2 separate regions of the Homo sapiens genome follow, and region 2 is linked to region 1. The links come from fine-mapping of genetic effects on gene expression. Tissue or cell type: whole blood. Region 1 holds a variant in brackets; the other region holds the start of a gene. All regions are shown on one strand. Distances are between the middles of the regions.

Region 1 (5,144 bases):
TGATCTAGGATGATTACCATCATTTGTGTAAGAAAGTGCCCCTGAGAACACCATGAAGGTGAATACAGCCTCGATATGCTTACCTGAAGACAGTAGTCTCGATGGGTAGGACTTAAATCCAATGTAGGAACTAGAAAAACAGACCATCTAGCTGGGTTTCCAAGCTTTTTTGTGGGCTGCAATACACTTGGATCAAAGGAAATCTTTCTTGAAGGTTAAATATGTAAAACAGTTAAAAAGTAGTGGCCGGTCTGGCATTAGTTGGGAGAGGGGGGAGGGGGTAGGAGGGAAGGAGGGAGGTCTATGCCTATGAAGCTCCTGAAATAAGAAACCTGGGCCGGGCGCGGTGGCTCACGCCTGTAATCCCAGCACTTTGGGAGGCCGAAGCGGGCGGATCACGAGGTCAGGAGAGCGAGACCATCCTGGCTAACATGGTGAAACCCCGTCTCTACTAAAAATACAAAAAATTAGCCGGGCGTGAAAATTAGCCGGGCGTGGTGGCGGGCGCCTGTAATCCCAGCTACTCGGAAGGCTGAGGCAGGAGACTGGCGTGAACTCGCGAGGCGGAGCTTGCAGTGAGCGGAGATGGCGCCACTGCACTCCAGCCTGGACGACAGAGCGAGACTCCGTCTCAAAAAAGAAGAAAGAAACCAGATGCATGTGCCTTCTTTGAGCCAAACCATTACCTCTCTGGCTCACAGCATGTTACTAGATTTGTTCAAAAGGAAAAAACAGAAGTTTCAGCAACCGTACTCTAGGGTTCTGAGGGGGCAGAGTTTGAGAATCCTTGCTCTAGCCCGCCTCTGCTGATTATAAGGGAGAAAACGGCAGTGCTGCTGTTAGGCTGATGTATCTGTTCCTTTCACAGCTTTGGTCATAACTGGTAATTACCATTTACTTGTTCTCAGCCTCCTTGGAACAGCGATCTTGCCTGACACGTGCACCCTCGCACGTGGCACAGTAAGTGGGACACATTAGGCACTCGGAAAATATTTGCTGTAAACATGAAAGAAGGGCGACAGGCTAATAAAGTGTGGAAGGGTTTTGGGGTCAGCACAGCCCCGGGACGTCCCATCCCCGTGGGCCGCGGGCCGCCCGGAATACGACGACTCCACTTGCCGGCGCTGCTCCCGGGATACCAGCGACAACAGCGGCTCAGTCCCGGCAAACGGCGCGTGGCCCCTCCGGCGAAAAGCAGCTATAGGCTGTTGCGGCTGCCAATCAGACCAACAGAGCCGCGACTCGGAGACCTCTGGGAGACGTGGGCCCCCGCTAATCCGCCCTCCAATTGGCTCGCGTGCTCCCGGGGCGCTCTGGGAGATGTGTTTCTGGGAGTGTTCCGCGCATGTGCATGCGTGAGGGCGGGGCGTCGGGGTCGGGCTGGAGTGTCTGTCGCGCCTTATGTGGGCCCCTCGGCAGAAGACGCACTTTCGGCAGAAGCCGCACTTTTGGCAGAAGCCGCCCTGGGTCCTTTCCCTCCCGCAGGCAGGCCGGGACCCCGGCGGGAATTGCGTGCAGGTCGGGTCTCGCTTGACCCCAGCGCCTCCCCGCGTCCGGGCACACTGCGGACAGTTCCTTTTTATTCTCTACCGCTACTTCCTCTTTATCTTCTGCCGCTCTTTCCACACGTCTCCTCCCCCAGGCCGCTTCCCTTTGGGGCGCCGGGCCAGGGAGGGGCTGCCGGACCGGAGACCCCGGACTCGCGCCGGTCTCCGCTCGGGCGTGGGGTCCGTGGGGCGTCGGCGGGAGGGGTCCTGGAGGAGACGGCTGTGCCGGGGCGGGACCCCCTGTCCTCTTAACAGACGCGCCCCTGACAGTCGTGCCAGTCGCCGCCCTGGGCTTTGGGGACGTCCGAGGACGCAGCTGGCGGTTCCTCCCGCGGTTCCCGGCACTGTTACTTCCCCGAATTCCCAGAACAACCCATTTGATAGGAAATGGAAACTGAGAAAAATCGAGTAATTTACTCACGTCACACGGCCACCAGATATTTGAATCTCGTATTTCCCACCACTTCGTGGCTTCCAGGCTCATAAACAAGAAGTTGCAAAACAGGGTGAGGCGTGGGAATGACAGCAGCACGGGGCGGGGAGTGGAAGGGCGGAGCACCTTAGAGGGCAGGATTCAGCAAACGGAACCTCAAAGGAAACAGTGTCAGTGCTGCTGCTTAGTTGGTAAGAAAACAAAGGGCCGGGCGCGGTGGCTCACGCCTGTAATCCCACCACTTTGGGAGGCCGAGGCGG[T/G]CGGATCGCGAGGTCAGGAGTTCGAGACCAGCCTGACCAATATGGTGAAACCCTGTCTCTACTAAAAAATACAAAAATTAGCCGGGCGTGGTGGCGCGCGCCTGTAGTCCCAGCTACTCAGGAGGCTGAGGCAGGAGAATCGCTTGAACCCCGGAGGCACATGTAGTGAGCTAAGATCGCGCCACTGCACTCCAGCATGGGCGACAGAGTGAGACTGCGTCTCAAAAAACAAACAAACAAAAAAAGGGAGTAGCTGCCTTCCAGACACAGTTTTGTTATTTTTCTGCCCCTTTCACTAGCCTGTCAGCCCTTTGGTGGCCGGGGATTGCGTGTCCAAAGCCTGGCTGCTAGTCAGGTTCCTATAAATATTGGTAGGACAGAGCGTATTAAAGTTTTTATTTTAAGATTTTTAAGCACAAGAAAGTTGAGAGAGTAACATGAATACTCACGTACTCTCCACCTAGATTTAATAATCAGAAAAAATTATGTGTGTAGGCCTTTATTTTTTACAAACCCTCTTGTTTAACGTTACCGCCTTCCAAATGAAGCTCATTGGTGAGTGGTGTGGGGATCTATTCAGAGCCCCATGACTGCAGCCCTTCAGCAGGGTTAAGGCCACCTGCCACACCCCACTTTGGGAAGCTGGCTTCCTCTCCTCTCCCTCCGTTTCCAAGCTGCTCAGGAGGTGCCCTCAGAAAGATCAGTTACAATTAGTGTTATCTGCGTAGGGGACTGGGCAGCAGATCTCATTGATCTGGGCTGGGATCGGCAGGTGGGTTGGTCCAAGTTGAGAGGGAGATCCTGCAGAAGCTCTTAGCTGCTGCAGGATTCAACACTAACTCCTTAAGGTAGCAACAAGGGCCCTTTGTAAAATCTGGCCAGAAACAGGTATCTTAGATGCATCTTCACACCCGCCAGTATCCAGTCTACCCTTATCATGTCAGCCCTGCTTTCAGAATCACCCAGAATCTGACCCTTCTGCCTCCACAGTGGTTCAGGGCCCTGCAGTCGCTTTCCTGCATTGTGACAATAGATTGCTTTCTCCTCTCTGTTTCCACCTTTCTCATCTCTTGTCTCTTATGGAAGCCAGAGTGTTCTCTTTTCTTTTCTTTCTTTTTTTGAAACAGTCTCACTCTTTCACCCAGGCCAGAGTACAGTGGTGCGATCACAGGTCACTGCAACCTCCGCCTCCCAGGTTCAGGTGATTCACCTCAGCCTCCAGAGTAGCTGGGACTACGCGCACATCACCACCACACTCAGCAAATTTTTGTATTTTCAGTAGAGACGGGCTTTCACCATGTTGGCCAGGCTTATCTCGAACTTCTGACCTCAGGTGATCCACCTTCCTTGGCTTCCCAAAGTGCTGGATTATATGTGTGAGCCACCGCGCCCGGCCCAGAATGTTTCTTTTAAAGCGTAACTCCAATTATGTCACTGCTCTGCTCAAACTTTCCAGTGTCCCCTCATCTCAGAGTAAGAGCCAAGTCCTTGCTGTGTCCTGGGAGCCCTGCTACTTGATAGGGGACTCCAGCTCCCTCTCTAACCCCTCCATCCACTCCTCCTCCGTGCCTCTGCTCCAGCCACCACTCTTCCTCAAACACTAAGCACAAAGTTACCCCTTTTGCACTCTGTAAATAGGCAAAGACTGCTCATCCTCAAAATGAATACCTGGCTTACTCCTCTTCCTTTGGGTCTCTGTTCAAGCACAAAAGCCTTCTTCAAGTGCCCTATTAAAATATGAAACCAGGGGGCACGGTGGCTCATGCCTGTAATCACAGCACTTTGGGAGGCCAAGGCGGTTGGATCACTTGAGGTCAGTTGTTTGAGACTGGCCTGGCCAACATGGTGAAACCCCGTCTTTACTAAAAATACAAAAATTAGCCTGGCATGGTGGTGTGAGCCTGTAATCCCAACTACTTGGGAGGCTGAGGCAGGAGAATTGCTTGAACCCGGGAGGCAGAAGTTGCAGTGAGCCAAGATAGCACCACTGCACTCCAGCCTGGGTGACAGAGTGAGACTCTGTCTCTAAATAAATAAATAAAAATAAAAAAATATGAAACCAATCCCCTGCACTCACTAACCCTATTATTCTGCTGTTTTTTCCCCCAACTTATCACTCCCTGATACATTGTGTATTTGTTTGTTTATATCAATTCACACTTTCCTATAAGAATGTGGGCTCTTGGCTGGGCGCAGTGGCTCATGCCTGTAATCCCAGCACTTTGGGAGGCCGAGGTGGGCAGATCACAAGGTCAGGAGATCGAGACCATCCTGGCTAACACGGTGAAACCCCGTCTCTACTAAAAATACAAAAATTAGCCGGGCGTGGTGGCAGGCGCCTGTAGTTCCAGCTACTCGGGAGGCTGAGGCAGGAGGATGGCGTGAACCCGGGAGGTGGAGCTTGCAGTGAGCTGAGATAGCACCACTGCACTCCAGCCTGGGCAATATAGCTAGACTCCGTCAAAAAAAAAAAAATGCGGGATCTTCTGAGCCAGGCGCAGCAGCTCACGCCTGTAATCCCAGCACTTTGGGAGGCCGAGGTGGGTAAATCACTTGAGGCCGGGAGTTTAAGACCAGCCTGGCCAACATGGTGAAACCCCGTCTCTACTAAAAATACAAAAATTAGCCAGGCGTGGTTGTCGGTACCTATAATCCCAACTACTTGGGACGCTGAGGCAGGAGGATCGCTCAAACACTGGAGGCAGAGGTTGCAGTGGCGAGATTGCGCTACTGCCCTCCAGCCTGGGCGACTGAGTGAAATTCCATCTCGAAAAAAAAAAAAGAATGTGGCCTCTTCTGAAGGGCATTTATATCAGAAAAAAAAGAATGTGAGCACTGCAAGAAGTTTTTTTCTGTTCAGTTCTGTATCAGTAGTACCTAGAATAGCATCTGGCATACAGCAGG
Region 2 (5,144 bases), 29 kb after region 1:
TCTGAAACTTTTTCATGTAATATTTTATGGCCATCCCTCCAGGTGTACATATAGTTCCAATCCATTCTTTTTCATAGCTGGGTAATTTCCAGAGTATGAATGCACCAATTTACTCCTTTCCTTACGTATGAACATGCATGTCATTTCTAGTTTTTGTCACTACAAAGAATTCTACAAGAAATTTGTAGACATCAGATTCACAGATGAGATTGTGAAGGTCAAAGGGTACATACTTGTACTTTTAATTTTAATATATATTACAAGATGACTTCACACACCACACTACCAGCGAAAGGAGTGCCTATTTCTCCACCTTCATTGTTTGATAGGTGAAAAATGTGGTTCCCTTTAAAAGTGATAATCTTGACTAGTAGTGTGGTTAAGCATCTTTTTAAATGTTAATGACCAATTAGTTTTCCTCCTCTCGGGAAGAGCTCCTCATTGCCTTTGCTTTTTGTCAGTTGGCAGGGGTTCATTTTGTCTTAGGAATGTATAATCTTTTGTGTAGCTAATCTTTACAATTATCTTCCAGTCTATTTCTTGTTTGTTAACAGAGTCAAGAAAAAGTTCTTAAAAAATACAATCACACAGGTTTATATTTTACTTCAAGACATCTCAGTTATCTGTTTTGCCTCATAATTCAAACCATAATGCTTTGATTAACGGAGGCTTTTTAGTAAATTTTGATCTGAAAAGGCAGATATTCCTTATTTTTCTAGAATGTCTTGGTGCCACACAGTTTTCATACTCGTTTCTTTGTAACATATTTTAAGCCATCGTCAGCCATTAGTCAGGTATAATTAACTTTAAGAAGAGGCATTCATTTATATTTTTACTTTTGTCAACTTTCTGGAGGCTGGTATTACATCGAGAAATAAGGCCATCCCTGCCCACAAGTTGTCCGAACCCTGATCAGTGCGTCACTGGGGAACGAACCGAGTGTGGATACAACGCACAAACACAAAACTCTGTTCGGCCTCCGTAGGAAGCTGAAATTGAGAAAGGAAACCGAGACAGTAGGAGAAGGGCAATTAAGATGTCTTTAAAAACAAGACGGCCGGTGCGGACAGCAGTGTAGAAGTTAGCAAGCTGGAGTGGGCAATGTCGGTGCCCCATCTCTAACCTATGGGAGTCACCAGAGCGGGGGCGGAGTCCCATGGCGGCCACACCCTGTCCGCCTCCGCAGTCTTTTTACTGGAGAACCGCAGTAAAAGGCGGAAACCGCGGAGGCGTCTTGATTTTCCGGTCGGAGAGATAGCTTGCTTCCTTTAAGCCTCGGGGTAGGGGGGTGGGGAGGGTAGGGGGGTGGGGAGGGTAGGGGGGTGGGGAGGGTAGGGGGGTGGGGGGGTGGGGAGGGTAGGGGGTGGGGGGGTGGGGAGAGTAGGGGGGTGGGGAGAGTAGGGGGGTGGGGAGAGTAGGGGGTGGGGGGGTGGGGAGAGTAGGGGGGTGGGGAGAGTAGGGGGTGGGGAGAGTAGGGGGGTGGGGAGAGTAGGGGGGTGGGGAGAGTAGGGGGGTGGGGGTTGGGGGGTGGCGCCGTGGGGGGTGGCGGGGTGGGGGGTGGGGGGTGGGGAGAGTAGGGGGGTGGGGGGTGGGGAGAGTAGGGCGGTGGGGGAGTGGCGGGGTAGGGGGGTGGCGGGGTGGGGGGTGGGGGGAGCGCGGGCGCTGGGTGGGCGGGGGGTGGGGCGGTGGGGGGGCCTGCCCCGCCCCAACCGCCGCGCCTGACGGTCGTCCATTGGTTGTTTGCATTCGAACTACATTTCCCAGCAGGCCCTGGGGTTAGACTGGCCGCAGCTGGAGAGGTGCCAGCCCGTCGTGGATGACTAGAGCCAACCACCTGCCTTCCGTCTTCCAGGCAGAACCACAGAGAGGCTACAGCCGTCCTGGCCTCCCTCCGGCCCTGAGAGCTCCTCTGGCCTGTCTCAAGTCTTAACGTCTCAAGCGCAGACTGCCGGCTCCGAACGGGGAGACCAGGCTTCTGCACCGGAAACAAGGCACCGGTTGTGACGTCACAGCCGCAGAGCGCCCGACTTCCCAGAAGGCACCGAGTCCCTGCCGTTCTCCTCAACTGGCGGCGGCGCGAACGAATAGTCGCCGGCGACCTGTGAGGGCACTCGGAAGGGCGAGGGGAGGGCTCGACCGCTCGCGCCTAGTTTTTCTATCTCTCCCGGAGCCTGAGTCTCTGAGCCGTCCCCAGCAAACGCTCAGGGGCTGCAGAGGCCCCGAGAGGTGAGGGGCTCCGTGAGGGCGGGAACCAGGCTGAGGCCGCCTCTGGGGAGCGGAGCGTGTCCGTTGCTGAGGGAGCAAGGCCGGGTAGGGAGCCTGGTGAGCGCCTCAGGCAGGGGCGCACGCTGAGCTTTACGGTAAAGGTGTTCCTTGACCAGCGGAAGAGGCCCCAGAGTGAGCCTGGCCCGGCGGTCCTTAGTGGGATGTCGCCTGCCGCTCTCAGCAGAGCTTTGACGGCGGAGAGGAGTCGGCAGGCGGTGTGTGGACACCTCCTCGGCCTTGCATCTGCTCCCCGGGAGAGTCACCAACCGCCTCCCCGCCCAAAGGGCACCGGAGGGAGCTTCGGTTCGAGGGGTACAGTATGGCCAGATTCAGTGACCAACCTGCTTTTAGGCAGATGTCCTCGGTATTGACCCCAGATTTCCTGTCTTCTAGCCCATTGCTCTTTCTCCAAGCCTGATTTAACCTATTCCTGGTGGGTTTTACACACCGTCTTTCTTTCTGTCTTTTCTTTCTTTTTCCTTTTATTTTCTTTCTCTTCCCTGATTCCCTTCCTCCTTCTTTCCTTTCTCTTTTCCTTTCTTTTTTTAGAGTCAGGGTCTTGCTTTGTCGCTCAGACTGCAGTGCAGTGGCGCGATCACAGTTCACTGCAGCCTCGACCTCCTGGGCACAAGCAATCCTCCCAGCTCCCCAGTAGCTGGGACCACAGGCTTGTGTCGCCACGCCCAGCTAATTTTTTTTTTTTTTATGGAGTCGGTGTCTTGCTGTGTTGCCCAGGCTGGTCTTGAACTCCTGGACTCAAGCGATCCACCCGCCAGGGCCTTCCAAAGTGCTGGGATTACAGGTGTGAGCCACCGGTACCTGGCCACACTTTGTATTTCTCAGGAGGCTGGACCTTGGCCTTCTCCGCTCCACCCTTACTCCCTTCCCTTTGGACTTGAGGTTTGCACAGTCTCTGTTTTTCATTCTCAGGATCTTCCTTTCACATCTTCCTAAGCATATCTTGTTCAAATACTGCGTTTCAGTTATGATTTCCCTATCCCAGCTGTCGTTTTCTTTAGATCTCATGTAGCCTCACCAGCCATGCCACATATTGGAGTGCAGTAATGCCGTGCCTGGTCTTTTGGGTAATCCCTGGTTTCTCTGTCTACAGCTTGGCTCTCTGGCAGATTTCCTCTAGTAAGAGGTGGCTCTGGAGGCCCCGCGAAACGAGTGTGGTGTGTGGTTGCAAGGCATGATGGCTGCAAAAGTGGTTCCTATGCCCCCAAAGCCAAAGCAGTCCTTTATACTGAGAGTTCCGCCAGACTCCAAGCTGGGCCAAGACCTACTTCGAGATGCCACTAACGGGCCCAAGACCATCCACCAGCTAGTGCTGGAGCACTTCCTCACCTTCTTGCCCAAGCCAAGCCTGGTCCAGCCCAGTCAGAAAGTCAAGGAGACCTTGGTTATTATGAAAGATGTGAGCTCAAGCCTTCAGAACAGAGGTGAGAAGCACATGCTTGTTTCACTAGAAGAGGAGGAGGAGGTACTGGAGTCTAAGATAGGTTTCTGTGTTAGTTATAAATTCAAGTTAGGATGGTGTATATTGGAAAAGGAGTCAATTCTAGTGTTGGAAAGAGGAAGTTCTTCTCAAGTGCTGGGTGTGAGTAAGGCCACAGAATAAACAGTGTGCATCTTTCTGTAGTGTCAGTTTTACCCAAACATTCTGAGGGAAATATCTTTTAAGGATAAATCAGATGAATTATTGAGTTAGGTTGATGTGGAATTTTAGAAATTTTGTGCTTTTTCTGGGCATCTTCACACTTTACGTTGCCCTAAGCTCTCCTTTAGTAATACTCTATGGGAAATTCTGAAAGGTGCTTAGAGAAGTCATTCTTTTCATAACAGGGAGATGCCATAGGTTCAAGACCCTAGAGTTTATGGCTTGAACTCTATAAGGGCTCACAGGAGCAGAAAAGGCCATGAGTTACCTGTCAAAGGAATGAGGACAGCCTGGCCTCGCGGTATGGGGAGTCTCTGTGTTAGAGTCACTGAGTTTTTCACTAACTAAACCTTCCTCTTTCCCCAGTGCATCCTCGTCCCTTGGTGAAGCTTCTGCCCAAAGGAGTCCAAAAGGAACAAGAGACAGTGTCTCTGTATTTGAAAGCTAACCCTGAGGTGGGTTTGGTTTTCCCATTTACTGCCTGAATCCATCACCTTCCGTGCTTGGCCAACCTGTGTGTAAAAACACATTCTTAGGAGTTGGCCTTCTTGGGTGTTTTTCTTCTGCTTTTTCCTTGAGCCCTTCTCAGCCTGGCTGTCCTGTCTTTGCTGCACCTCTGTGGGATTTATAGGTCCCTCTTGCTATCCCTTCCCTTGATCTTTGTGTGTCAGCTTTTCTTACCAGTAGGGCTGTCAGTGAACCTCAGTTACTAAGATGAAAGGGGCCTCTTGCTCTTTCAGGAGCTGGTGGTCTTTGAGGATTTGAATGTATTTCACTGCCAGGAAGAATGTGTGAGCTTGGATCCTACTCAACAACTCACGTCAGAGAAGGAAGATGACAGCAGTGTCGGGGAAATGATGTTACTGGGTAAGAAATCACAGCCTTTGTGTGTTCAGGTTGTTTGCTTTGGGAAAAGCATGTCCTTCATCTCTTTAGCTTTGGGGGACGATTCACACCTGGTAAGCCTATGTGCACACACACATTTTATTTTACTTTTGTTTTATTCAATGTAGCAGAGCCTTGCCACAGAACTCCAGCTGTGGGTGGGTGGCCATTTTTCCCTGTATCTTGGGGGCAGTGAGGGGAGAGGTAGGGAAAACCTGCAGACATAGAAACTGTGGATATAGAAACTGTTCTGAACCCATTTTCTGAACTCTGTTCTCAACAGGTATATTTGAATGTTTTCATTGAACACATGACTAACTCTTGTAATCCCCCT

What was found. PIP is the estimated chance that this variant, and not a neighbour inherited with it, causes the effect.
Region 2: it holds the start of ZNF200, and the variant in region 1 is fine-mapped to the expression of ZNF200 in whole blood (INTERVAL, PIP above 0.99).

What each region holds. Positions count from the first base shown.
Region 1 is chr16:3,260,708-3,265,851 of GRCh38, reverse strand. It overlaps LINC00921 (long intergenic non-protein coding RNA 921), which reads right to left and starts at 2,084. Exons shown (of 2, transcript NR_033904.1): 1 at 84-2,084. RefSeq lists enhancers at 1,104-1,173, 1,324-1,423, 1,864-2,023 and a silencer at 1,664-1,843. The variant T/G (reference allele first, on the strand shown) is at 2,241.
Region 2 is chr16:3,232,069-3,237,212 of GRCh38, reverse strand. ZNF200 (zinc finger protein 200) reads left to right here and starts at 2,055. Exons shown (of 5, transcript NM_198088.3): 1 at 2,055-2,226; 2 at 3,377-3,707; 3 at 4,292-4,380; 4 at 4,666-4,792. The coding sequence starts at 3,458. RefSeq lists enhancers at 1,737-1,946, 1,957-2,016.